Regions from separate parts of the Homo sapiens genome. Here all the other regions are linked to region 2. The links come from fine-mapping of genetic effects on gene expression. A gene starts in region 2. Each other region holds a variant in brackets. All regions are shown on one strand. Distances are from middle to middle. Region 1 holds the start of HBQ1 (hemoglobin subunit theta 1). Region 2 holds the start of NPRL3 (NPR3 like, GATOR1 complex subunit). Region 3 overlaps NPRL3 (NPR3 like, GATOR1 complex subunit).

What was found.
Region 1: its variant is fine-mapped to the expression of NPRL3 in aorta (GTEx, PIP 0.95).
Region 3: its variant is fine-mapped to the expression of NPRL3 in whole blood (TOPMed, PIP above 0.99).

Annotation. Positions count from the first base shown.
Region 1 is chr16:180,342-188,495 of GRCh38, forward strand. HBQ1 (hemoglobin subunit theta 1) reads left to right here and starts at 118. Exons shown (of 3, transcript NM_005331.5): 1 at 118-240; 2 at 325-529; 3 at 639-838. The coding sequence starts at 146. The coding sequence ends at 767. RefSeq lists an enhancer at 619-878 and a silencer at 889-1,238. The variant C/T (reference allele first, on the strand shown) is at 5,150.
Region 2 is chr16:135,420-143,591 of GRCh38, forward strand. It overlaps NPRL3 (NPR3 like, GATOR1 complex subunit), which reads right to left and starts at 3,254. Exons shown (of 14, transcript NM_001077350.3): 1 at 3,223-3,254; 2 at 2,731-2,915. The coding sequence starts at 2,848. RefSeq lists a silencer at 2,684-2,913, an enhancer at 3,134-3,183 and a cis regulatory region at 7,536-8,054.
Region 3 is chr16:99,700-107,871 of GRCh38, forward strand. It overlaps NPRL3 (NPR3 like, GATOR1 complex subunit), which reads right to left. Exons shown (of 14, transcript NM_001077350.3): 8 at 673-810. Among named protein-coding and RNA genes, the nearest start is that of MPG, 26 kb to the left of the region's middle. RefSeq lists an enhancer at 7,057-8,172. The variant C/T (reference allele first, on the strand shown) is at 3,225.

The sequences.
Region 1 (8,154 bases), 45 kb after region 2:
CGCGCGCGGTCCCGGGATCTCCGACGAGGCCCTGGACCCCCGGGCGGCGAAGCTGCGGCGCGGCGCCCCCTGGAGGCCGCGGGACCCCTGGCCGGTCCGCGCAGGCGCAGCGGGGTCGCAGGGCGCGGCGGGTTCCAGCGCGGGGATGGCGCTGTCCGCGGAGGACCGGGCGCTGGTGCGCGCCCTGTGGAAGAAGCTGGGCAGCAACGTCGGCGTCTACACGACAGAGGCCCTGGAAAGGTGCGGCAGGCTGGGCGCCCCCGCCCCCAGGGGCCCTCCCTCCCCAAGCCCCCCGGACGCGCCTCACCCACGTTCCTCTCGCAGGACCTTCCTGGCTTTCCCCGCCACGAAGACCTACTTCTCCCACCTGGACCTGAGCCCCGGCTCCTCACAAGTCAGAGCCCACGGCCAGAAGGTGGCGGACGCGCTGAGCCTCGCCGTGGAGCGCCTGGACGACCTACCCCACGCGCTGTCCGCGCTGAGCCACCTGCACGCGTGCCAGCTGCGAGTGGACCCGGCCAGCTTCCAGGTGAGCGGCTGCCGTGCTGGGCCCCTGTCCCCGGGAGGGCCCCGGCGGGGTGGGTGCGGGGGGCGTGCGGGGCGGGTGCAGGCGAGTGAGCCTTGAGCGCTCGCCGCAGCTCCTGGGCCACTGCCTGCTGGTAACCCTCGCCCGGCACTACCCCGGAGACTTCAGCCCCGCGCTGCAGGCGTCGCTGGACAAGTTCCTGAGCCACGTTATCTCGGCGCTGGTTTCCGAGTACCGCTGAACTGTGGGTGGGTGGCCGCGGGATCCCCAGGCGACCTTCCCCGTGTTTGAGTAAAGCCTCTCCCAGGAGCAGCCTTCTTGCCGTGCTCTCTCGAGGTCAGGACGCGAGAGGAAGGCGCCGCCCCTCCCCAAGGAAAGGCGAGGGCCTGGGGCACACCCCCAGTGCCCAGATCCAGGCGCGCCTCTTTCCACCTCCAGCAGGTTTGGGGCCTCGGCCATGGGGGCACCGAACTGCGTGCAGCCTGACCCTCCCGAATGGGGTGGTAGGTGAGGGCCGCGGGACGCCCCGGGCGGCGGGCTGCGAGGACGGCCGACTCTGCCCATCCCGAGGGCGGCTGGCTTCGCCCTCCCCACTCTGCGCCGAGCACGCGGCCCGGACCCACCGCGAGAACTCCGCACCTGCAGCGTGAACGCACGCGGGCGGCGTTAAGGGCCCGGGGCTGACTCGGAGCAGGTTAGGGAACAGCGCCCCCTCCCGGCGCGAGCCGGTACCTGCGCAGCACCCAGCCGCCGCGGCTGTGGCCTGGAATCGGGGACCTGGGGTGCCGGGGGGTTGTGGTGAAGGAGGTGGGACCAGCCCCAGCACCTAGCCACGTAGCTGGCGAGGTGGACCAGGAACCGACCCAGACCCCTGCCGTCACCCGACATCACTACGGAGAGTGAAGCTTTTTTATATTTGTCCACATAAAACCAATCATGGTCATTGTAGAACTTCCGAAAACAAGGCTTGCTGCACCTTCCTGTGTATCCCAGGTCCAGGAATGGGTGCAGCACATCCTTCAGCTGCCGCTTGACACGCGGCAAACTGTGTCATGTGTAAACAAGAACAGGACATGGCTGTCATATCCAAGAGCACATGTGTAACACAGACATGCCACACACACACACACACACACACGGGGTAGAGGCAGGCCTCATCCACACCCCTAACATTTGATGCGTAGCTGTTCCAGTCTTCTAGGCACATGTAGAGATGCTTTTCCTCAGAAATGGTATTCTCAAGGTGACACTGAGGAAAAGTGGACAGGCCGGGCGCGGTGGCTCACGCCTGTAATCCCAGCACTCCGGGAGGCCGAGGCGGGCGGATCACGAGGTCAGGAGATCGAGACCATCCTGGCTAACACTGTGAAACCCCGTCTCTACTAAAAATACAAAAAAATAGCTGGGGGTGGTGGCGGGCGCCTGCATTCCCAGCTACTCGGGAGGCTGCGGCAGGAGAATGGCGTGAACCCCGGAGGCGGAGCCTGCAGTGAGCCAAGATTGCGCCACTGCACTCCAGCCTGGGCGACAGAGTGAGACTCCGTCTCAGAAAAAATAAAAATAAAAATAAAAATTAGCTGGGTGTGGTGCGGGCGCCTGTAATCCCAACTTCAGGAGGCTGAGGCAGGAGGATGGCTTGAACCCGGGAGGCGGAGGTTGCGGTGAGCCGAGATCACACCATTGCACTCCAGCCTGAGCGACAGAGCGAGACTCCGTCTCAAAAAAAAAAAAAAGAGGAGGGGGCGGGGGGAAGAGCCAGAGAAAATATTTGCTACATGTGGCAGATAAAGGTTATTATCTCTACTACATTAGATCTCCGGGCGGGGCATGGTGGCTCACGCCTGTAATCCCAGCACTTTGGGAAGCAGAGGCCGGTAGATCACCTGAGGTCAGGAGTTTAAGACCAGCCTGGCCAACATGGTGAAACCCCGTTTCTACTAAAAATATAAAAACTAACTGGGTGTGGTGGTGCATGCCTGTACTCCCAGCTACTCGGGAGGCTGAGACAGGAGAATCACTTGAACCAGAGTCGGAGGTTGGAGTGAGCTGAGATTGCACCACTGCACTCCAGCTTTGCGACAGAGCGAGACTGTCTCAAACAAAAAAAAAAAAAAAGAAAAGAAAAAATCTGGCCCCTAGCCCACCCGTGAGCCCCCTCTTGGATCCACGTTCTAGTTTCTATCCTTGGGGTAGCTCGAGTCAGTCTCACCTCAATCATCCTGTGTGCTCCCAGAGCACAGGACCTGCGGCTGCTGCAACTTCGCGCACAGGAGCAAGCACTTGGAGCCCAGGAGGCTCAGGGGCCCTGAGGAAGCACCAGGCTCTCAGACTCCTGTAACTAGGTGTGGACACCCTCCTGGGATTACATCTGGAGCATCACTGAAGGTGGAAGAGCCAGACCGCATCCTCCCTGGAGATGTGGAGGTTGGAGGGAGCTGGCCCTGGCTCAAGGGCTCAGCCCACTTGGTACAGAACCTACCCAGAGGTGCAGATCCAAGGGAGCAGGGGGAGCAGCTGTGGGCCCTCCACACTGTTGGGGAGACTCATGCCCACTCAAGTCCAGGGGAATTTGCACTCTGCCTTTTTTTTTTTTTTTTTTTTTTGAGATGGAGTCTTGCTCTGTCACCCAGGCTGGAGTGCAGTGGTGCAATCTCAACTCGCTGCAATCTCCACCTCCCGGGTTCAAGCGAATCTCCTGCCTCAGCCTCCTGAGTAGCTGGGATTACAGGTGCCTGCCACGCCTGGCTCATTTTTATATTTTTAGTAGAGACGGGGTTTCACCATGTTGGCCAGGATGGTCTCAATTTCTTAACCTTGTGATCCACCTGCCTTGGCCTCCCAAAGTGCTGGGATTGCAGATGTAAGCCACCGCGCCTGGCCATACTCTGCCTTTTCAAAGCCACTCCTACACAGGTGGTGGTGAAGGCTGCACAACAATGTAGATACACGTCGTGCCACTGAACTGTACACTGAAAAACTGTTATAACGGCACGTTTTGTGTGCACTTTACTATAATAAAAAATGTTCCATCCTGGCTGGGCGCGGTGGCTCACGCCTATAATCCCAGCACTTTGGGAGGCCGAGGCGGGCAAATCATAAGGTCACGAGATTGAGACCATCCTGGCTAACACAGTGCAACCCCGTCTCTACTAAAAAAAACACACAAAAAATTGGCCGGGCGTGATAGCGGGCGCCTGTAGTCCCAGCTATTCGGGAGGCTGAGGCAGGAGAATGGCGTGAACCAGGGAGGCGGAGCTTGCAGTGAGCCGAGTTTGCGCCACTGCATTCTAGCCTGGGTGACAAAAGCGAGACTCCGTCTCAAAAAAAAAAAAAAAAAAGTTCCATCCTGGCCAACGTGGTTCTGGCTCCAGGCTGCCACCCCTCCCCCAAAGGATGCCACCCCAGATAGGGGTCCTCGGCCTGCTCCAGCACCTGCCTGTCCCATGACGGCTGCACACTGGGGTAGGAAACGGCCTCCGCATCCTCCTCTCCTCCCCCCAGGACTACCCTTAACCCACTCAGGGCTTCGGTCAAGGCCCATGCGCTCCCCAAGCCCAAGGTAACCCTGTGCAGGAGGCAAAGGTGGTACAAGGCACAGCCCATCCAGCTAGTTTGGCGCCGACAGCACCCACCAAACAGAGCCATTTACCTTTAAAAAAATCACTGCCAGCTGTGGTGACACACCTGTAATCCTAGTGCTTTGAGAGGCTGAGGTGGGAAGACTGCTTGAGCCCAGGAGTTCCCAAGAATATCCTGAGCAACATAGTGAGACCTGTCTCCACAAAAACATAAAAAATTAGCCAAGTGTGGTAGTGCACACCTATGTCCCAGTTACTTGGAGGCTGGGGCAGGAGGATCACTTAAGTCCAGGAGTTCAAGGCTGCAGTAAGCCATGACTACAACACTGCACTCCAGCATGGGTGACAAAGCAAGCATCGTCTCAAAAAAAATAAATAAATAATTTTGGCCAGGTGCCGTGGCTTACGCCTGTGATCCCAGCACTTTGGGAGGTCAAGGCGGGTGGATCACGAGGTCAGGAGTCCAAGACCAGCCTGGCCAAGATGGTGAAACGTTGTCTCTACTAAAAATACAACAATTAGCCGGGCATGGTGGCGGGCCCCTGTATTCCCAGCTAGTCGGGAGGCTGAGGCAGAGGGTGCAGTGAGCCGAGACTGCATCACCGCGCTCTAGCCTAGGAGACAGAGCGAGACTCCGTCTCAAAAAAAAAAAAAAAAAGTTTTTTTTTAATCGCCAAATGTTCTGGAGAGGCCCCCTTCTCTTCTGTTCTCCTGCAGTCTGGGCTGCAGGCCAAGGTGGTCCCTGTGGGTGGAGACAAGGGCCGGTTCCACCTGACACTACAGACCCCTTCACATGGGAGGGATACACTTCCAGACCCATATATCTCCGAGTAGCCATCTTTGGCGAGATTTACTGGTACTGCAGTGGAAAGGAAGGACTCGCTGTACTGGGTGAAAAAAGTGAAAACATGGGACTCCTATCGCAGACTCTGACAGCAGAACCTGGTGTGGGTTATTTGGGAGGAGGGAGGGAGGAGGGAGAAAGGAAGAGCTGTTGTGGGTGCTATCAGCGAAACTGCACCGGGGGCATGAAGCTCAGTTTGGT[C/T]AGCACCACCTGGCAGGTGTACCAAAAGCCCACCCGACTGTCCCTGCACGGTAGAGAGGCAGGAGCGCCTCTCCCTGCACGGATGGTGCCCCGGAGGCTACCAGGGGCGGCCGAGGACACTGATGCTGCATCCCAGGAGGACCTGTCCTTCAGCTGTAATCAGCAGACACGGGGGACAGGATGGCCAGGGGCACAGCACCTTTTCTGTAAACCCCACACCCTGACCCCCCCCACCCAAAAAAGCAAAAAACAACTATTTGTCTACACATACAATTTTATGCCCAGATGGAAAAAGATCCAAATGATTCACAGTGGTGATGGCTCTGAGGGTGACGCTGTCTGCTTAAGGCCCAGGGAAACCCAGGTGCAAACTCACACTCATCACCCAGGCAGCCACAGCCATGAACACAACGTGGGCTTGGGAACAGGGAGCCCAGACCCAACCACTCCCTCCTAGAAGACGAAGAGGAAAGCACATGTGCTGAACAAGTACCCTGAGTCCCACCTGCAGGAAAAGGTGCAGGTAAGGAATACGGACACGGGAGGAATACGGACACGGAGGGAACAGCGACACGGGGGGAACAGCGACACGGGGGGAACAGCGACACGGGGGGAACAGCGACACGGGGGGAACAGCGACACGGGGGGAACAGCGACACGGGGGGAACAGCGACACGGGGGGAACAGCGACACGGGGGGAACAGCGACACGGGGGGAACAGCGACACGGGGGGAACAGCGACACGGGGGGAACAGCGACACGGGGGGAACAGCGACACGGGGGGAACAGCGACACGGGGGGAACAGCGACACGGGGGGAACAGCGACACGGGGGGAACAGCGACACGGGGGGAACAGCGACACGGGGGGAACAGCGACACGGGGGGAACAGCGACACGGGGGGAACAGCGACACGGGGGGAACAGCGACACGGGGGGAACAGCGACACGGGGGGAACAGCGACACGGGGGGAACAGCGACACGGGGGGAACAGCGACACGGGGGGAACAGCGACACGGGGGGAACAGCGACACGGGGGGAACAGCGACACGGGGGGAACAGCGACACGGGGGGAACAGCGACACGGGGGGAACAGCGACACGGGGGGAACAGCGACACGGGGGGAACAGCGACACGGGGGGAACAGCGACACGGGGGGAACAGCGACACGGGGGGAACAGCGACACGGGGGGAACAGCGACACGGGGGGAACAGCGACACGGGGGGAACAGCGACACGGGGGGAACAGCGACACGGGGGGAACAGCGACACGGGGGGAACAGCGACACGGGGGGAACAGCGACACGGGGGGAACAGCGACACGGGGGGAACAGCGACACGGGGGGAACAGCGACACGGGGGGAACAGCGACACGGGGGGAACAGCGACACGGGGGGAACAGCGACACGGGGGGAACAGCGACACGGGGGGAACAGCGACACGGGGGGAACAGCGACACGGGGGGAACAGCGACACGGGGGGAACAGCGACACGGGGGGAACAGCGACACGGGGGGAACAGCGACACGGGGGGAACAGCGACACGGGGGGAACAGCGACACGGGGGGAACAGCGACACGGGGGGAACAGCGACACGGGGGGAACAGCGACACGGGGGGAACAGCGACACGGGGGGAACAGCGACACGGGGGGAACAGCGACACGGGGGGAACAGCGACACGGGGGGAACAGCGACACGGGGGGAACAGCGACACGGGGGGAACAGCGACACGGGGGGAACAGCGACACGGGGGGAATACCAACACGGGAGGAACAGCAACACGCAGGGAATATCGACATGGGTGATGCCTGCAAAGCACAGCATCAATCCCAAGTGACTCCTGTACAGGGCGGCCCCTTCCACCCTCCTTTCCTTGGAGACAGTTGGCTGGGCTAGACCTGTGTCACGGGCTGGCAGAGCAGCCCACCTACCCATCTGTCCTCCTGGAGGGGACAGCCTGTGGCAGGAGAGCCCAGAGCAAGGCCACCAGCTACACTGTGATACCGGTGGCAGAAAGACCCAGACCACAGCGCCCGTGTGCGCCCACTGAGCCAGCCAGCTCAAGGGTGGCATGTGTACCCCTGCAGAAACAGAGCGGATGAGGATGGCTATGTGTTAACAATGTGAACCTCAGGAATTCCCTCCAAAAAATCTCCCACGAAGTGAAAAAGGGAAGGAGCTCCCATCATCTACACATTAGTTAGCAGTTATCCTTTTCAGAAGGGCTTCATTTTGGGTTTTTGGGGGGTTTTTTGAGACAGAGTCTTGCTGTCGTCCAGGCTGGATGCAATCTCGGTTCACTGCAACCTCTGGCTCCCGGGTTCAAACGATTCTCCTGTCTCAGCCTCCCAAGTAGCTGTGATTACAGGTGTCCGCCACCACACCCAGCTAATTTTTGTATATTGGTAGAGACAGGGTTTCACCATGTTGGCCAGGCTGGTCTCGAACTCCTGACCTCAGGTTATCTGCCTCCCAAAGTGCTGGGATTACAAGCGTGAGCCACCGCGTCCCCCTTTACTTTGGTCTTAAAGTACCTGCCTGATGTACAGCAGGTATGTTAGAAAGAACTGAAAGGTGTTGGCCAGGAGCGGTGGCTCACGCCTGTAATCCTAGCACTTTGGGAGGCCGAGGCGGGCAGATCCCGAGGTCAGGAGATCGAGACCATCCTGGCTAACAAGGTGAAACCCCGTTTCTACTAAAAATACAAAAAATTAGCCAGGCAAGGTGGCAGGCACCTGTAGTCCCAGCTACTCTGGAGGCTGAGGCAGGAGAATGGCGTGAACCTGGGAGGCGGAAGTTGCGGTGAGCTGAGATCACGCCACTGCACTCCAGCCTGGGCGACAGAGTGAGATTCCGTCTCAAAAAAAAAAAAAAAAGAACGAACTGAGAGGTGGGAAACATAATCAGCCCACATGGGACATGAGTCAAACCATTTTTTTTTTTTTTTTTTTTTTTTTTTTTTTTGAGATAGGGCTTTCTTGTCACCCAGGCTGGAGTGCAGTGGCG
Region 2 (8,172 bases):
CTGATATGGTGAAACCCCATCTCTACTAAAAATACAAAAATTAGCCAGGCGTGGTGGCACGCACCTGTAAACCCAGCTACTCGGGAGGCTGGGACAGGAGAATCGCTTGAACCCGGGAAGCAGAGGTTGCAGTGAGCCAAGATCAGGCCATTGCACTCCAGCCTGGGCAACAGAGTGAGACTCTGTCTCAAAAAAAAAAAAAAAAAAAAAAGACATAAACAGTCTGGAGGAAAATAAGGGAGTTTTTTATTGTTGTTGTTAATAATTTTGGAGAGCAAAACGCCTTTCCATTTAAAACAAAACTCAGAAACCACAAGAGATTAGACTGAAAACTCCACAAAAATCAAAACTCTGGCAAGAACTACACAGAAGCAAACAGGGTGACTATAGCTTTGTCCCAAGACCTATTTTTACATTAAATATATAAAGAACTCCTTCAAATCTATAAGGAAAAAAAATCAAACAACCCAAGAGAACATTAGGCAAAGGTTATAAATAAGTCATTCACTGAAAAGGAAATCCAAATGGCTCCAAAAACAGGAAAATATGCTTTCTATCTCAATTAAAAGGCAAATAAACATTAAAATTACTACCAGATATAATTTTTCACCTACCAGATTAACAAAGATTGAAAAATCTAACCTATTAAAAATAAATATGCTCTTTATCCCTTAGACCCAACCATGCTACTTTGGGGATTTAATATTACAAGAATTCTGCAAAATGACAATACCTGGAAAGAACGTTTGAACTTTTCGTATTAGCAAAAGATTGAAAACAATTTTGCGTCCATCAACCAAAAGGACACGATAAACAAATCACAATATGTTCATCTCATGGAATTCACCGTGGCCGGTAAGAAGGACAAGGGTGCTCGACAGGTTCTGATCTACATCAAAGATGCAGACATGAAGTGAAAACGAAAACAGGGGCAGAACAGTGTGTATGGTGTGACTTTGCTTGTGCTTAGAAAAAAAACACAAGTGCAGGCTGGGCGCGGTGGCTCACGCCTGTAATCCCAGCACTTTGGGAGGCCAAGGCGGGCGGATCACAAGGTCAGGAGTTGGAGACCAGCCTGGCCAACATGGTGAAACCCCATCTCTACTAAAAATAAAAAAAAAAATTAGCTGGGCATGGTGGCGCATGCCTGTAGTCCCAGCTACTCGGGAGGCTGAGGCAGGAGAATTGCTTGACAGGGGGTCGGAGGTTGCGGTGAGCCGAGATCACGCCACTGCACTCCAGCCTGGCAAGACTGCAAGACTCGTCTCAAAAAAAAAAAAAAAGAAAAAAGAAATACATACGCCTGTATTGACACAGAAGGTCCTGGAAAGACACAGAAAAATGGGAACAGTAGTTACCCCTATGATGGAAACTGAGGGCTGGGGGCCAATAGTAGGAAAGAACTTTCTTTTCATAATCTAAACTCCTTTGTATCTTTAAAACTTTCTGCCATATCAACAAGTTTAAAAATAATTTTAAAACAAAATACAAAATAAAAACTGAACAGTCCGGGTGCGGTGGCTCACACCTGTAATCCCAGTACTTTGGGAGGCCGAGGCAGGTAGATCATTTGAGGCCAGGAGTTCGAGATCAGCCTGGCCAACATGGCAAAACCCCATCTCTACTAAAAAAAAAAAAAAAAAAAAAAAAAATTGCAGGGTGTGGTGCACATGCCCTGTAGCCCCAGCTACTTGGGAGGCTGAGGCAGGAGAATCCCTTGAGCCCGGGAGGTGGAGGCTGCAGTGAGCCGAGATCACGCCACTCAACTCCAGCCTGGGCGACAGAGTGAGACTCCGTCTCAAAAAATAAATAAAATAAAAACAAAAACTGAACATTCATGATGATGAAAAATCAAAAGTAACCTACATGCCGTCCACAGGGGAAGGCAGCAGCCTGCAGCCAAGGGTGAGGTTGATCCCTGCTTGCAAAGGCAGACGGAGCTCCAAGGCCGACTATGGGAAAAGGGCGCCACAGAACAATTCGTGCGATGAAAAACCTCACGCGACGTTCCCTTTTCCTGTGGATAGATCTGCATCTATGCACAGGGCAGACAACTCCCAACACGGCCAGGGGTGATCCCTGTGCTTGCTAGAACTGGGGGTGGCAAAGACAACTTCAGATGTTCACGTAACTTTTTTTTTTTTTTTTGAGACGGAGTCTTGCTCTGTTGCCCAGGCTGGAATCCAGTGGCGCGATCTCGGTTCACTGAAACCTCCGCCTCCCGGGTTCAAGCAATTCTCCTGCCTCAGCCTCCCAAGTAGCTAGGATTATGGGCACGCACCACCACGCTCGGCTAATTTGTTTTTTTTTATTTTTATTTTTTCAGTAGAGACAGAGTTTCAACCATGTTGGCCAGGCTGGTCTCGAACTCCTGACCTCAGGTGATCCACCCGCCTCGGCCTCCCAAAGTGCTGGGATTACCGCCACCGGCCTTGTTCGTGTAATTTTGTATTTTCTCATGATGAATACATCCCAAACTCATTTTATTTTATTTTACTTTATTTTTTAAAGGCTGGAGACTGATGAAATGTCAGCAGTAGTTGCTTTGGTGTGGTGAACAATGCATGATTTTAATTTTTTTTTTCCTTTTTCTACTTTTCAAATACTCTACAACGAGCAGATCTCGAATGCCCAGCAAAAGCTAAGCTCCGCGAGGCGGCCCTGGAATGAGGCGACCCCGGAATGAGGCGGCCCCCGCGAGCGCCAGGCCCCCGCCCAGCGCTCACTTACTTGTCTGGGACGCCGGGTGCTCCTGGCTTCTCTGGAAGGGGTACCTGAACAGCAGCTTATTGCCCCTGCTCCCCGAGCTCACCAGAATCACGCTGATGGGGCTGGTGTTGTCCCGCATCCCGCCGTGGGGCCGGGGCCGGGGGCGGAGGGGGCCAGAGGAGGACGGAGCCGGAGGCGGAGGGGGCCTGAGGAGGACGGAGCCGGAGGCGGAGGGGGCCTGAGGAGGACGAGGCGGGGACGCAGGGGGCCTGAGGAGGGCAGGGGTGGAGGCGGAGGGGGCCTGAGGAGGGCAGGGGTGGAGGCGGAGGGGGCCTGAGGAGGGCAGGGGTGGAGGCGGAGGGGGCCTGAGGAGGGCAGGGGTGGAGGCGGAGGGGGCCTGAGTAGGGCAGGGGTGGAGGCGGAGGGGGCCTGAGGAGGGCAGGGGTGGAGGCGGAGGGGGCCTGAGGAGGACAGGGGTGGTGGTGGACGCGGAGCAGCGCCACAGTTACCAACCCACGTGCCACGCTCCGGGCTCGCGAGACTTCGGCGACACCGTCCGGAGGAGGTGCTAAGGCGGCGGCCGGGAGAACGGCGCAGGCGCAGGCGCAGGCGCAGGCAGCGGAATGCGCAGGCGCGGGGCCTTCTGGAAGCCACCGAGTTCCGCGGTGCTGTCTGGAGCCGTACGGTTCGCGTTTGGGGCACAGGGGCCCCTCTTGCTGGTGCGGATGGGAAAGGCGCGGGGTCGAGTCAGCGTCCCTCTCGATGTTGGTTTCTTCGTTTTACAAATAACACTTGGGCGGGGCGCGGTGGCTCACGCCTGTAATCCCAGCATTTTGGGAGGCCGAGGCGGGCGGATCACGAGGTCAGGAGATCGAGACCATCCTAGCTAACATAGTGAAACCCCATCTCTACTAAAAATTAGAAGAAATTATCCGGGCGTGGTGGCAGGCGCCCGTAATCCTAGAGGAGAATCGCTTGAACCCGGGAGGCGGAGGTTGCATTGAGCCAAGATCACGCCATTGCACTCCACCCTGGGCGACAGAGCGACGAGACCCCGTATCAAAAAAAAAAAAAAGAAAGAAAGAAAGAAAAAAGAAAAAAAAAAGGCCGGGCGCGGTGGCTCACGCCTGTAATCCCAGCACTTTGGGAGGCCGAGGCGGGTGAATCACGAGGTCAGGAGTTCGAGACCATCCTGGCCAACATGGTGAAACCCCGTCTCTACAAAAAAAAAAAAAAAAATTAGCCGGGCGTGGTGGCGGGCGCCTGTAATCCCAGCTACTCGGGAGGCTGAGACAGGAAAATCGCTTGAACCCGGGAGGCGGAGCTTGCGGTGAGCCGAGATTGCGCCACTGCACTACAGCCTAGGCGACAGAGCGAGACTCCGTCTCAAAAAAAAAAAAAAAAAAAAAAAACACTTGGAAGCCGACAGGAGATCTTTGAGACCTTGGGCGAGGCAGTGACACTAAAGGCAGGAGCGACTACAGAAGAATAAATTAAACTTCATCAGATTAAAAACTTTACTGCGGCCGGGCGCGGTGGCTCACGCCTGAAATCCCAGCACTTTGGGAGGCCGAGGTGGGCAGATCATGAGATCAGGAGATCTAGACCATCCTGGCCAACATGGTAAAACCCCGTCTCTCTACTAAAAATACAAAAATTAGCTGGGTTTGGCGGCGCCTGCTTCTAATCCCAGCTACTCGGGAGGCTGAGGCAGGAGAATCGCTTGAAGCCGGGAGGCGGAGGTTGCAGTGAGCCGAGATCGTGCCACTGAACTCTGGCCTGGCGACAGAGCGAGACTCCATCTCAAAACAAAACAAAAACTTCGGTGCTTTAAAGGACACCATCAAGAAAATTAAAAGTCCACCCACAGAACGGGAGAAAATATTTGTAAGTTACATATCTGATAAGGGAATTGTATCTAGAATGGAGGAAACTTACAACTCAACAATAAAAAGACAATTGAAAAATGCACAAAGGATATGAATATTTTTCCAGTGCATTATGCAAATGGCCAATAAGCACCAGAAGATGCTCAGCTCAACTGGTAGAGGCTTACGCCTGTGACCCCAGCGCTGAGAGGCCAGGAACTCCAGACCAGCCTGGGCAAAACAGAAATTAAAAATGCTCAACATTATTAGGCATTAGGGAGATGCAAATCAAAACTACAAATAGATGCCACATCACACCTCCTACGATGGCTGTAATCAAAAAGACAAGCGTCAGCAGGGGTGTGGAGAAACGGGAATCTCTCTCCTGCTGGTGGGAATGTAAGAGGCTACACTCGCTATGGAAAACAGGCTGGCAGTTCCTGAAAGGTTAGAGTTAACACAACACTCGGCAAATCCCCCTTTTAGATATATAGCCAAGAGAAATGAAAGCATATGTCCACACAAAAACATGTGTGTTCTTAGTAATATTATTCATAATAGCCCAAAGTGGAAGCAATCCTAGGGTATATCAATTGATGAATGGGTGAATATGGTATAGTTTGTTTAAGGGAATACTATTCAGCCATAAAAAGGAATGAAGTACGGCACATGAATCCATCTTGAAGACACACTAATATATGATTCCATTTATATAAGATGCCCAGAATAGGCAAATCCATAGAGACAGAATGATTAGTGGCTGCCTAGGGCTTCCAGGGGGTCAGGGGAAATATGGAGCGATTCATGGGTTTTTTGAAGGGGAGTGATGAAAATGTTCTAACGTTGACTGTGGTAATGGTTGGACAGCTCTGAGAACGCGAATACACTAAAAGACATGGAAGTGCCGGGCGCAGTGGCTCATGCCTGTAATCCCAGCGCTTTGGGAGGCCAAGGCAGGCGGATCGCGAGGTCAGGAGATCGAGACCATCCTGGCTAAGACAGTGAAACCCCGTGTCTACTAAAAATACAAAAAATTAGCTGGACATGGTGCGGGCGCCTGTAGTCCCAGATACTCAGGAGGCTGAGGCAGGAGAATGGTGTGAACCCGGGAGGCGGAGCTTGCAGTGAGCCAAGATCGCACCATTGCACTCCAGCCTGGGCGACAGAGCGAGACTCCATCTCAAAAACAAAAAAAAGATATGGAAGTGTACACTTGAAGTGGATAAGCTTTATGGTATGCAAATTGGTATGGTATGGTAAATTATATCTCAATGAAGTTGTTTTTTAAAAAATCACCCCACCTACCCTATCCCAGGCTTCCCCAGGAGGTAACTAAAGGTAATGAGCTTCTTTGGCTGCTTCCAGAACTTTCCCAAGCACATCAAATGCATCAGAACCTAACCACTTGACTGAGGGATGAGCATTTTCACTGTTGCAAGTAACCCTCTTGCACCAACACTGACACTAATGTGTATTTTGCAGAACAAATTTGTGGATTGGCCTCACCAGGGTGAAGGGTACGTGCATTTGAAATGGCTCAACAGTACCAACAGGTGCGTTTTCTTGCACAGGGCTGCATAACATTTTTTTTTTTTTTTTGAGACAGAGTCTCGCTCTATCACCCAGGCTGGAGGGCAGTGGCACAATCTCAGTTCACTGCAAGCTCCACCTACCAGGTTCACATCATTCTCCTGCCTCAGCCTCCCAAGTAGCTGGGACTACAGGTGCCCGCCACCACACCAGGCTAATTTTTTTTTTTTTTTTGAGATGGAGTCTTGCTCTGTCGCCCAGGCTGGAGTGCAGTGGCACGATCTCAGCTCACTGCAAGCTCCACCTCCCAGGTTCACACCATTCTCCTGCCTCAGCCTCCCCAGTAGCTGAGACTACAGGCGCCCGCCACCACGTCCGGCTAATTTTTTTGTATTTTTAGTAGAGACGGGGTTTCACCGCGTTAGCCAGGATGGTCTCGATCTCCTGACCTCTTGATCCACCCGCCTCGGCCTCTCAAAGTGCTGGGATTACAGGCGTGAGCCACCGTGCCCGGCCTGCATAACATTTTTTTTTTTCCTGAAATTCCCAGAAAGGAAAATGGTGTCTTGTTCTATGTTGCATTTCTTTGATTGAGAGGGAGAGCTGCATCACTTAATTATTTGCAGAGAATTGCTTTTCTTGTTTTCTTTACAGGTGGTCTGTTCTTGGATGGTCTGGCTGTGTTCTTTCTGAGGAATACATAACCTCTGCTACACATTTTGCAAGGCTTTATCCCCGTTGTCCATGTTTTGATTTTATGTATAATCAAAAGGTTTGTGAGTTCTCCCGCACTTCCCAGGAGTGCCTCTGGGATGGAAATGAGACTGCAGGAGCAGGGCTTGAGGCTGGAGGGGTGAGATGGGACAGATGGGGGTGGGGGAACCCAGGGCAGTGGCCGGTGGTGGTAATGGAGGCCTCCTCACAGGGACCCTCACAGCGACCATGCGAATGGAGCAGGACTGTGACTCAGGTCTCGCTCTTCTGACCTAATCGTGCTGCTGCCCCAATGGGCAGAACCTTGGGGCTCCAGACTGGACATCTCTGGGCTCAAAGGATCCCACTGTTCCCCCGGTTACCCTCTCAGGGTTGGCCTCCTGCCAGTAACCCTGGCACTCATTGTTCATTCTTCTGACTATCGTCAGTCATAATGAGAGCTCGAACTGGTGAAAGTGCAGGGAGCTCACCATGACCCCAGCCCACAGAGGTCCTGGGTGCGTCCCTGCCCTCGAAGCAGCACTCTGGATCCCAGCGCCACCCTCATGTCCATGTTTGCACCTCATTGGCTGTGACAGAAATGAGACATCATTGTCACACGCTGGCCTGAGGGTCAGTGGGCCTTGCTTTGGACCTCAGTTTCCCCACCAGTAACAGGGTTCAGAGCAGATGGTCCCTGAGTGAGTCCCAGCTCTAAGTTCTCCCAGGGTCTCCTGGACAATGAAGCACCAGGGCCAACCTCCATTTGCTACAGGGGACATCCTCAGGCTCTTCTCTGCTAAGACCCCACACCTCCAAGTCTCCTCATTTTACCTTTAAATAGCTGTTTCATGACCTGCTTTTTTGACGGTAAGTAGATTTTTGGAAACTGAAACCCCTGACCCTTCCTCCCAGCCTGGGCCTGCCCTTGGCAGGATAGGAGGCCTTATCGGTCCTGCCACTTGGTCTGGGCCTCAAAGGGCCACCGCCATCTGCAGGAGGGCCGGGTGGGGTTCACAGACGCTATCTGGGACTTGCCTGGACACCTCCACCTTCTCAGCTGAGTGTTGCTGCCCCACCAGGGAGAACCACTCACACACAGTAGTAATAGAAATAATTTAAAATTCATGCTGCAAGTTCCTGAGCGCCCTCCCAACACTGAGGTGGGGGCTAGTCTAATCCCCATCCTAGAGGTGAAAACAGTGAAACTAGGACTCACAAGGCAAATTAGCCTGTTCAGGGTCACCGAGGGTCCACTCTCATGGGAGAGTTTGCAGATGCCCAATCCGGCATTCTGCTGAGTGTCCAGTGGCTTGTAAGTGGCCAGACACCCTTTGAGCTCAGCCTCAGCTGCTCAGGCACAGAACGTGCC
Region 3 (8,172 bases), 36 kb before region 2:
TGAGTGGATCACCTGAGGTCAGGAGTTCGAGACCAGTCTGGCCAACATGGTGAAACCCTGTCTCTACTAAAAGTACCAAAAAAATTAGCCAGGCATGGCAGTGGGCGCCTGTAATCCCAACTACTCGGGAGCCTGAGGCAGGAGAATCACTTGAACTTGGGAGGTGGACGTAGTGGTGAGCCGGGATCGCACTACTGAAATCCAGCCTGGGCGATAAGATCAAAACTCTGTCTCTCTCTCACACACACACACACCCCCGCAAAAAAAAAAAAAAAAAAGAAAAAGAAAAAAAAAAGAAAAAGAAAATAACTGAGATCCCATGAGTGCTGACTGAAATGCAAAAGACTGGGGTAGGGCAACACCATTAAGATGAAGTCCCTCCAGCCCTCCGGCCTCCCCAAGGACACTCAGCCCCACATCCAGGCTGCCCTGCCCAAGCCTAAGGTGGTGCCAGAAGGGCCCAGGAGAAACCTGGGATTGGTCATTTCTGGACACAACTGGATACAAAATTATGTGTTTTAACTTCTATAAACGGCAGAGCCCCACCTGCAAGCTTCCGCAGTGGGAAGAAGAAAAAGAGAAATTTTGGAACAAAGTAAGTGGTAAAATCTCAGGCAGAAGCTAAAGGGAAGGGCCCTGGCAGGGAGTGAGCACGTGGGGCTGGGCACTTACCGGATGGCTTTCAGGCTCCGTTCGATGGCCTCTGGGGGGATCAGACTGGAGGCCGCATAGTGGATCTTGTGGGGCAGGCAGAAGCTCACCTCCAGCCAGCTGTTGATGTGAAGCCGAACTACGCCCGACGTGCACAGGCTGCAGAGAGTGGGCGCTGTTACCCGTTCACATAAACTTTCTAACCATGCACACAGATCAGAAAACACCCTGCTCAATGGTGCTGATTCCCCTGCTGCTTAGGGGAAACTGCAGGTGGAGACCCGGGCAGGAGAGCATCTCTTAAGATCACATTATGTTTAAGAAAAGAAAATATGGGGGCCGGGCACGGTGGCTCATGCCTGTAATCCCAGCACTTTGGGAGGCCAAGGTGGGCGGATCACGAGGTCAGCAGTTCGAGACCAGCCTGGCTAATAACACGGTGAAACCCCGTCTCTACTAAAAATACAAAAATTAGCCAGGTGTGGTGGCGGGCGCCTGTAGTCCCAGCTACTCGGGAGGCTGAGGCAGGAGAATCACTTGAACCCAGGAGGTGGAGGTTGCAGTGAGCTAACATCACGCCACTGCACTCCAGCCTGGGCAACAAGGCAAGACTCTGTCTCAAAAAAAAAAAAAAAAAAAAGGAAGAAGAAGAAGAAAGAAAAAGAGAAACATATTTCTGGCTAGCCCTGGAATCTGTAGTCCAACCAGACTGCCAGGGCTTGAGAGAAGCCGTACCCTGTCCTGGGGACTCAGTGCACTAGAGGCACTCTAACTCAGGCCCCTGCCCGTCCAGACCCCTGGCAGACACCCAACACCCAGAGTACATCCTCCCTGTGAATGGGCCTGCCCTGCACACCTCATGAAGACCCGTCACAGGTGCACGTCCAGGCAGAACAGTGGCTGTCTCAGAGGGCGAGGAGGGCAGGGAAGGAATGCCAAGTCCCCCAGAGTGTTCCAGTGGTGAGAAGCACACAGTGCCCACCTCCCTGCAGTCTGCAGATGCCCACAGCACCTCAGTTGCAGTGCATGTGGATACCAAGTGGTCACCACAAGCCAGCCGTGCTAGCCAGCCCCAACACTTCACTACGACGGAAAACCTTTCACTCCACATTCTATCAGTAAGGGTAACTTGGTTCTTTCGGGTCCCAAAGCTTGCTCAGGCCAAACATAGCAACACCATCCCAGTTTCCTTATTTCTTTCACAGTCCACTTTAAACCATCAGCAAATCCCATCTGCTCCACCTGCAGGGATGTCCAAAATCCAGGCCTTTTCAGCATCACCAGGCCCAAGCCACCCAGAGCACTGGCCCCTCTGACTACCGCTCCCCACACTCCCACCTGGGCAGTCCCAGCCATGGGCCTGCAACACCCACGTTCCTGTGGCCTCACTCCCTGTGCCCAGTCACTCAGGTCCCGCTGTGCTCAGGGCCCTGGCATTTGCCCTTGCCCACAAACTCTCTGCAGACGCCCCAAGGCTCCTTTACTCCATCGGTCTCCACTCAAGTGTCACATTCTCAGTGAAGCACCCCTGACCCCAGCCCCATTGACACTCCAACCCCTGACCCGCTGCCTAATGCTGTCTCCCCAACCAGAACTCACTCCTGAGGAGGGGGGCTTGTGGGTTTCATTCTCTGCTCTCTACACATTGTAAAACGTGTCAGGCACATAGGCACGGAGCTGCATTTCCTGAATGAAGCCAAGGAACACACCGCCCTCCCTGCATGCACTGTCTTTCCTAGGAAGCCCTGCCCCAAGAACAGGCTCCACAGTGGGGATGCAGCCCACGTCATCCCCTCGGGGAACCACACAAAACAAGGAAGGAGTTGTTTTCACCAGGAGCTTCTAAAACTCCCTGATGGAGAAGCCAGGGCGCCACCCAACTCCACCGCTCACCACAAAGCGCCCTTGCCTTAAGTAAGAGCCAACAGCACTTGTTCTATGACACAGAGGAGATGCAACTGCTCAAGCAAAGCTGTCTGCAGCTGGCCTTCACCGCATCCCCGGAGGCTCCAGGCAACAGGGGGGATCTCCACCTACTCTTGTCAAGGCCTGGCTACTCAAAGTGGCCGGCACCTTCCTTGTGTCCTGCACAGGGAACGCAGCCTGTGAAGCCTCACAATGACACCAGTTCTAAAATAGGAGCAAAACACACACAAGTTCTTCTCCAAACTGCCCATTTCTACAGCACCTCCCCGCATCATGTTTCCTCTGTTCACTGCCCCACTGCCCAGGAGAGCAGCCAACTAGTGCTTTTCCCATCACCCCCTGACCCTATTCTGCTATTCTCAGCTCCCAGTTGGCGGGACAGGCCAACACACCCACATCCGGCTAAGTCCGGGAGACTTGGCCAGACTTCTGGCTGCCCCAGGCCAGAAGGTACAAACGGCCCCTCGGACGTCTCTTAGGACACGTCAATACGGGGTGCTCAGAGAACACCATGGCCCCAAGGTCCCAGAGGAGGGCAGCAGTCTCAGCTTCTTCCAGAACTGCATGCTAACCAAGTATGTCGGGGCAGACAGAGGCTCCCAGAACCTTACCTCTCTTTGGTCAGGGTCTTTGCAGGGTGAAAAACT[C/T]GTATCAAACCCTGAGAAATGTCCCAGCCGCTAAGGAATTAAAGATCACACCAGGAGAGATTTGTCCAGGGGATCCAGGTTACTCAACTTGAGTAAGCAATAGTTAGGATCTTGGCATCCGTATGCGACAGGGAAGAAAGGGCAAGCGAGAGGTGGCCCCATGCACTGTGCTGTCACCATCTGGGTCAGAAAGGAGGGCCACTGGAAATAAAAGGTCTATTTTTTTTTTCTTTTTTCTGAGACAAGGTCTCACTGTTGCTCAGGCTGGAGTGCAGTGGCGCCATCTCCGCTCACTGCAGCCTTGATCTCCCAGGCTCAAGACAACCTCCCAAGTAACTGGGACTACAGACGTGCAACATCACGCCTGGGGTGATTTTTTTTTTTTTTTTTTTTTTTTTTTTTGTAGAGACAGGGTCTATGTTGCCTAGGCTGGTCTCAAACTCCTGGGCTCAAGCGATCCTCCCACCTTGGCTTTTCAAAGTGCTAGGATTACAGGCGTGAGCCACCGCACCCACCCAAGGCCTTTCTGTTTCTGTCCTATTTAGGATGCAGCTCAAAGTGGCTGTTGGGACACCACAGAATCAGAATACGGAGGCTCCTATTGTTTCAAATGTAGCTGTCTTTGCTCCATCTAGGAGCACAGTGAGGCCTTATGACATGTGCTGTGGCTCCCAGCACCAGTTTAGGTACTTGGAGTGCAGCAGGGAAGAAAATAACTTGGCTGCTCTGCACGCTGGGGGCTTCACTCAGCGGCATCTAGACAGACACATAATTGGCCGGGCGTGGCGGCTCACGCCTGTAATCCCAAAACCTGGGAGGCCGAGGCAGGCCGATCACTTGAGGTCAGGAGTTCGAGACCAGCCTGGCCAACATGGTGAAACCCTGTCTCTACTAAAAATACAAATATTAGGCCGGGTGCCGTGGCTCACACCTGTAATCCCAGCACTTTGGGAGGCTGAGATGGGCAGATCACCTGAGGTCAGAAGTTTGAGACCAGACTGACCAACAGGGAGAAACCCCGTCTCTATTAAAAGTACAAAATTAGCTGGGCGTGGTGGTGCATGCCTGTAATCCCAGCTACTTGGAAGGCTGAGGCAGGAAAATCACTTGAACCTGGGAGGTAGAGGCGGAGGCGGAGGTTGCACTGAGCTGAGATCGTGCCATTGCACTCCAGCCTGGGCAACAAAAGTGAAACTCCATCTCAAAAAAAAAAAAAAAAATTAGCCAGGTGTGGTGGCAGGTGCCTGTAATCCCAGCTACTTGGTAGGCTGAGGCAGGAGAATCACTTGAACCCAGGAGGCGGAGGTTGCAGTGAGCCGAGATCGCGCCATTGCACTCCAGCCTGGGTGACAGAGCAAGACCCTGTCTCAAAAAAAATTGAAATTAACGTTTAAAAAAAAAGACACCTAATTGTAATCAAATTGTATGGAGCATTAGAAACTGGAGAGAGTTATAGGGAAAGGAACAGGGGCTTGGAACACACCTCATGGAAAGCCAGGAACAAGTTCCAGCTATGGGTATGGAGAAATGAGGGCAGGAGGGTCACATGAAGGTTCTTCTAGTGACTTCCCAGCTTGGTCATCTCTGCTGCCCTCACCGTGTCAGCTGTCCTTGGAGCCGCAGTCATGTGGTCTGGTTTGTACACTGGCATGGGGCCCTCTCCTCTGGCAGAGACACGCCATGTTGGTTCCTCTAACTTCCACGTGGACTTTACTCCATTTTCCCAAGCATCAGCTCACCCACCTGCTGCTTTCTCCCTCAGAGCACTCTGCACTGAGGCTGGTGCTTCTTTATGAACTAACCCAGCTCCCTAGAGCGGTGACAAGTGCTGCCACCAGGAGTGCCCCAAAGGCCATGGCAGACCTGGGCAAATTCCCTGAACATGTCAGAGGGATGACTGCTCTGGAAAGGTGCCGGCCCAACCTCCAGCCTGTAAATCCCCCACAGTAAGAGGGTAAGCCAGGAGCTGCACTGAGGTCTGTTAACAAGGGGAAAGAGAAAGGTTTGTCACTGTTTTTAAGTCTGCAGCTTTAAGACAAGAGCCCTTAGCACAAGCAGGGTTTGGGCCCTGAAAGGTTTCCTGCCGAGCTTGCACTTCTATTTGCAAGGTGTTTAATGGTTTGGTCTGAAAACACTCTGGAGGAAAACACTGTCCTCCTCAAGACTTATCCAGCCCCTCACACAGCTCTGGGCCAGCCAAGAGGGCCCAGCCCAGTCTGTGACAGGAGATAGGTGCCCCAGCCAAAGCCCTGCATCCTGACAATGACTATGCAAAAGGGAATGGCTGGCTTCAAACACACTCTCGCCGTTCATCTCCAAGACAGAAATGTGCACAAGCTTAGTCTAGTCCCCTCAGCTTTTAGCATCTGAGAAAGCATCCATTCCTAACCTTAGAACTAGACAGGACCTGTGAAGCTATCCTGCAAACCTCTGCATCCTCTGGTCCCACGGATGGGCCTGGCTTCCTACCATAAGTAGTGGGATGCTGCATAACCCAAAAGATCTATGTGGGTTCCAAACAGCCTACCTTGAAATTTCAAACGAAAGTTTATATATAGGTGCATTTTTATGGAAATGGGTACTACAACTCAGGATATTCACAGAGGGTCCATGGGACCAACCCTGCTCTCGACAGTTTGCAGTGCAAGGCTCCGCACCAAGTACCACCTACCCAGCCAGACCCTGGACATCACTCCCCACCACAGGTCCTGTTAACTCGGAGAACCATTCAGCAAATCACTTCTTCACACTCCATGGAATCTACACTGCTGTTATTCCCACCCACACATTCCGTCGACCCCTAGCGGATGAGCTGTGCTCCTCCACAGGCTGAGTGTAGGGGCTGTGTTGCAGAAAGTGAAGAGACATCCCTGCCCTCCTGGGAGACACAATTCAATGGTCATATGAATGAGTGACATGCTGTCACTGAGGGCCACTGGGATCCACAGGGAGACACAAGTGCTAGGTATGGCACAAGTGTTGGGGTGGCCTCCTGAGCGATTCACATTCCCAGCCTATATTCACAGATGTTAGGTCCTGCAGGACAGGGCCACCAGGCTATTCAGCCACACCATAACCCTAGCTTTAATTAAAATAGCAACTGGGGACCGGACGTGGTGGCTCACGCCTGTAGTCCTAGCACTTTGGGAGGTCGAGGTTGGCAGATCACGAGGTCAGGAGTTCAAGACCAGGCTGGCCAACATGGTGAAACTCCATCTCTACTAAAAATACAAAAATTAGCCAGGCCTGGTGGCAGGCGCCGTAATCCCAGCTGCTCAGGAGGCTGAGGCAGGAGAATCACTTAAGCCCGGGAGACGGAGGTTGCAGTGAACTGAGATTGTGCCATTGCACTCCAGCCTGGGTGACGAAGCAAGACTCCGTCTCAAACAAACAAATAAATAAATAAATAAATAAAATAGCAACTGGGGGCAGGGCATGGTGGCTCACGCCTATAATCCCAGCACTTTGGGAGGCTAAGGTGGGTAGATTGCTTGAGTCCAGGAATTCAAGATCAGCCAGGGTAACATGGCAAAATCCCATTTCCACAAAAAAATACAAAAACTATTCAGGCGTGGGGGCGGGTGCCTATAGTCCCAGCTACTCGGGAGGCCGAGATGGAAGGATCACCTGAGCCTGGGAGACAGATGTTGCAGTGAGCCAAGATTGCGCTCCAGCCTGGCAATAGAGTGAGACCCTGCCTTAAATTAAAAAAAAAAAAAAAAAAAAAAAAAAAAAGAACCAGGAACAATTCCTTTGAAAAATCCCACCCCAATCTCCAACCTCATTAATCTCACAGCTTCTGGTCTTTCAGTTCTGTTCTGAGATTCCCCCAGATCTGGCAGTCAGTCACCATCAGGAGAAAGGCGCTCTGTCCTAGGTCACCTGATCAGTAATGGAAACTCAGTCTCCTCCTCTCAGTGCAGAAGAGTGAGCAGCAGCAGACCAGACCCTTGAGGCCAACCATGGACCTGATGGGATGAGGACAGACGAGAGGCCACAGCCCAGAGGGGCTCCTGGGTGGCTGCAGAGCCATGCCAGTGCCAGACAAGGATGGGTACAGGGAGGGTACTACTGCCTGGACTCCTGCCAGAGAAACATAGCTGCCAGCATCCCTGGGGCAAGCTCCAGGACCCAAGACTGTTAGGGTGGGAGTTTGGATGGAGGAAATGTGATCCTGGGCACTAACAAACAGAATGCGTAGGTCAGGAAAGAATGCTACATGCTGAACAACAGCTTAGGAGCCTTTTTCAGCAAAACTCAGATTCCTGTCCTCCTTTAATATCCACTAGGTGGCGCTGGGTTGCCTCAAGTTCTGAGCTCCTCCGCAGCCTGCAGATCACACAACAGGCAGTCCAAGGTTTTGTCTCCTTTCAACTTTCCAGCACGATTCAAACCTAAGAAATCATAGTCCATTCTTCCTTTAGAAATATAAAGTCAACGAGCCGGGCACGGTGCTCACGCCTGTCATCCCAGCATTTTGGGAGGCCGAGCCGGGCGGATCTACAAGGTCAGGAGTTCGAGACCAGCCTGGCCAATATGGTGAAACCCCATCTCTACTAAAAATACAAAAATTAGCCAGGCATGGTGATGTGCACCTGTAGTCCCAGCTACTCGGGAGGCTGAGGCAGAAGAATGCACTCCAGCCTGGGCAACAGAAGGATATTCCATCTCAAAAAAAAAAAAAAAAAAGAAGAAGAAAAAGAAATATAAAGTCAATGGTTTGGTTTTTATTTAAACAAATTTTTAAGAGACAGGGTCTCACCATGTTGCTGGGGCTGGAGTACAGTGGCTACTCAGACACCAGCATAGAGCACTACAAGCTCGAACTCCTGGGCTCAAGTGATCCCCCAACCTTGGCCTCGCCTGTGAGATGGGACTACAGGAGCACACCACCGCACCAGCTTGGTTTTTATTTTAATTCCAAGTTAGCCTGATTTTTGTTTGTAAT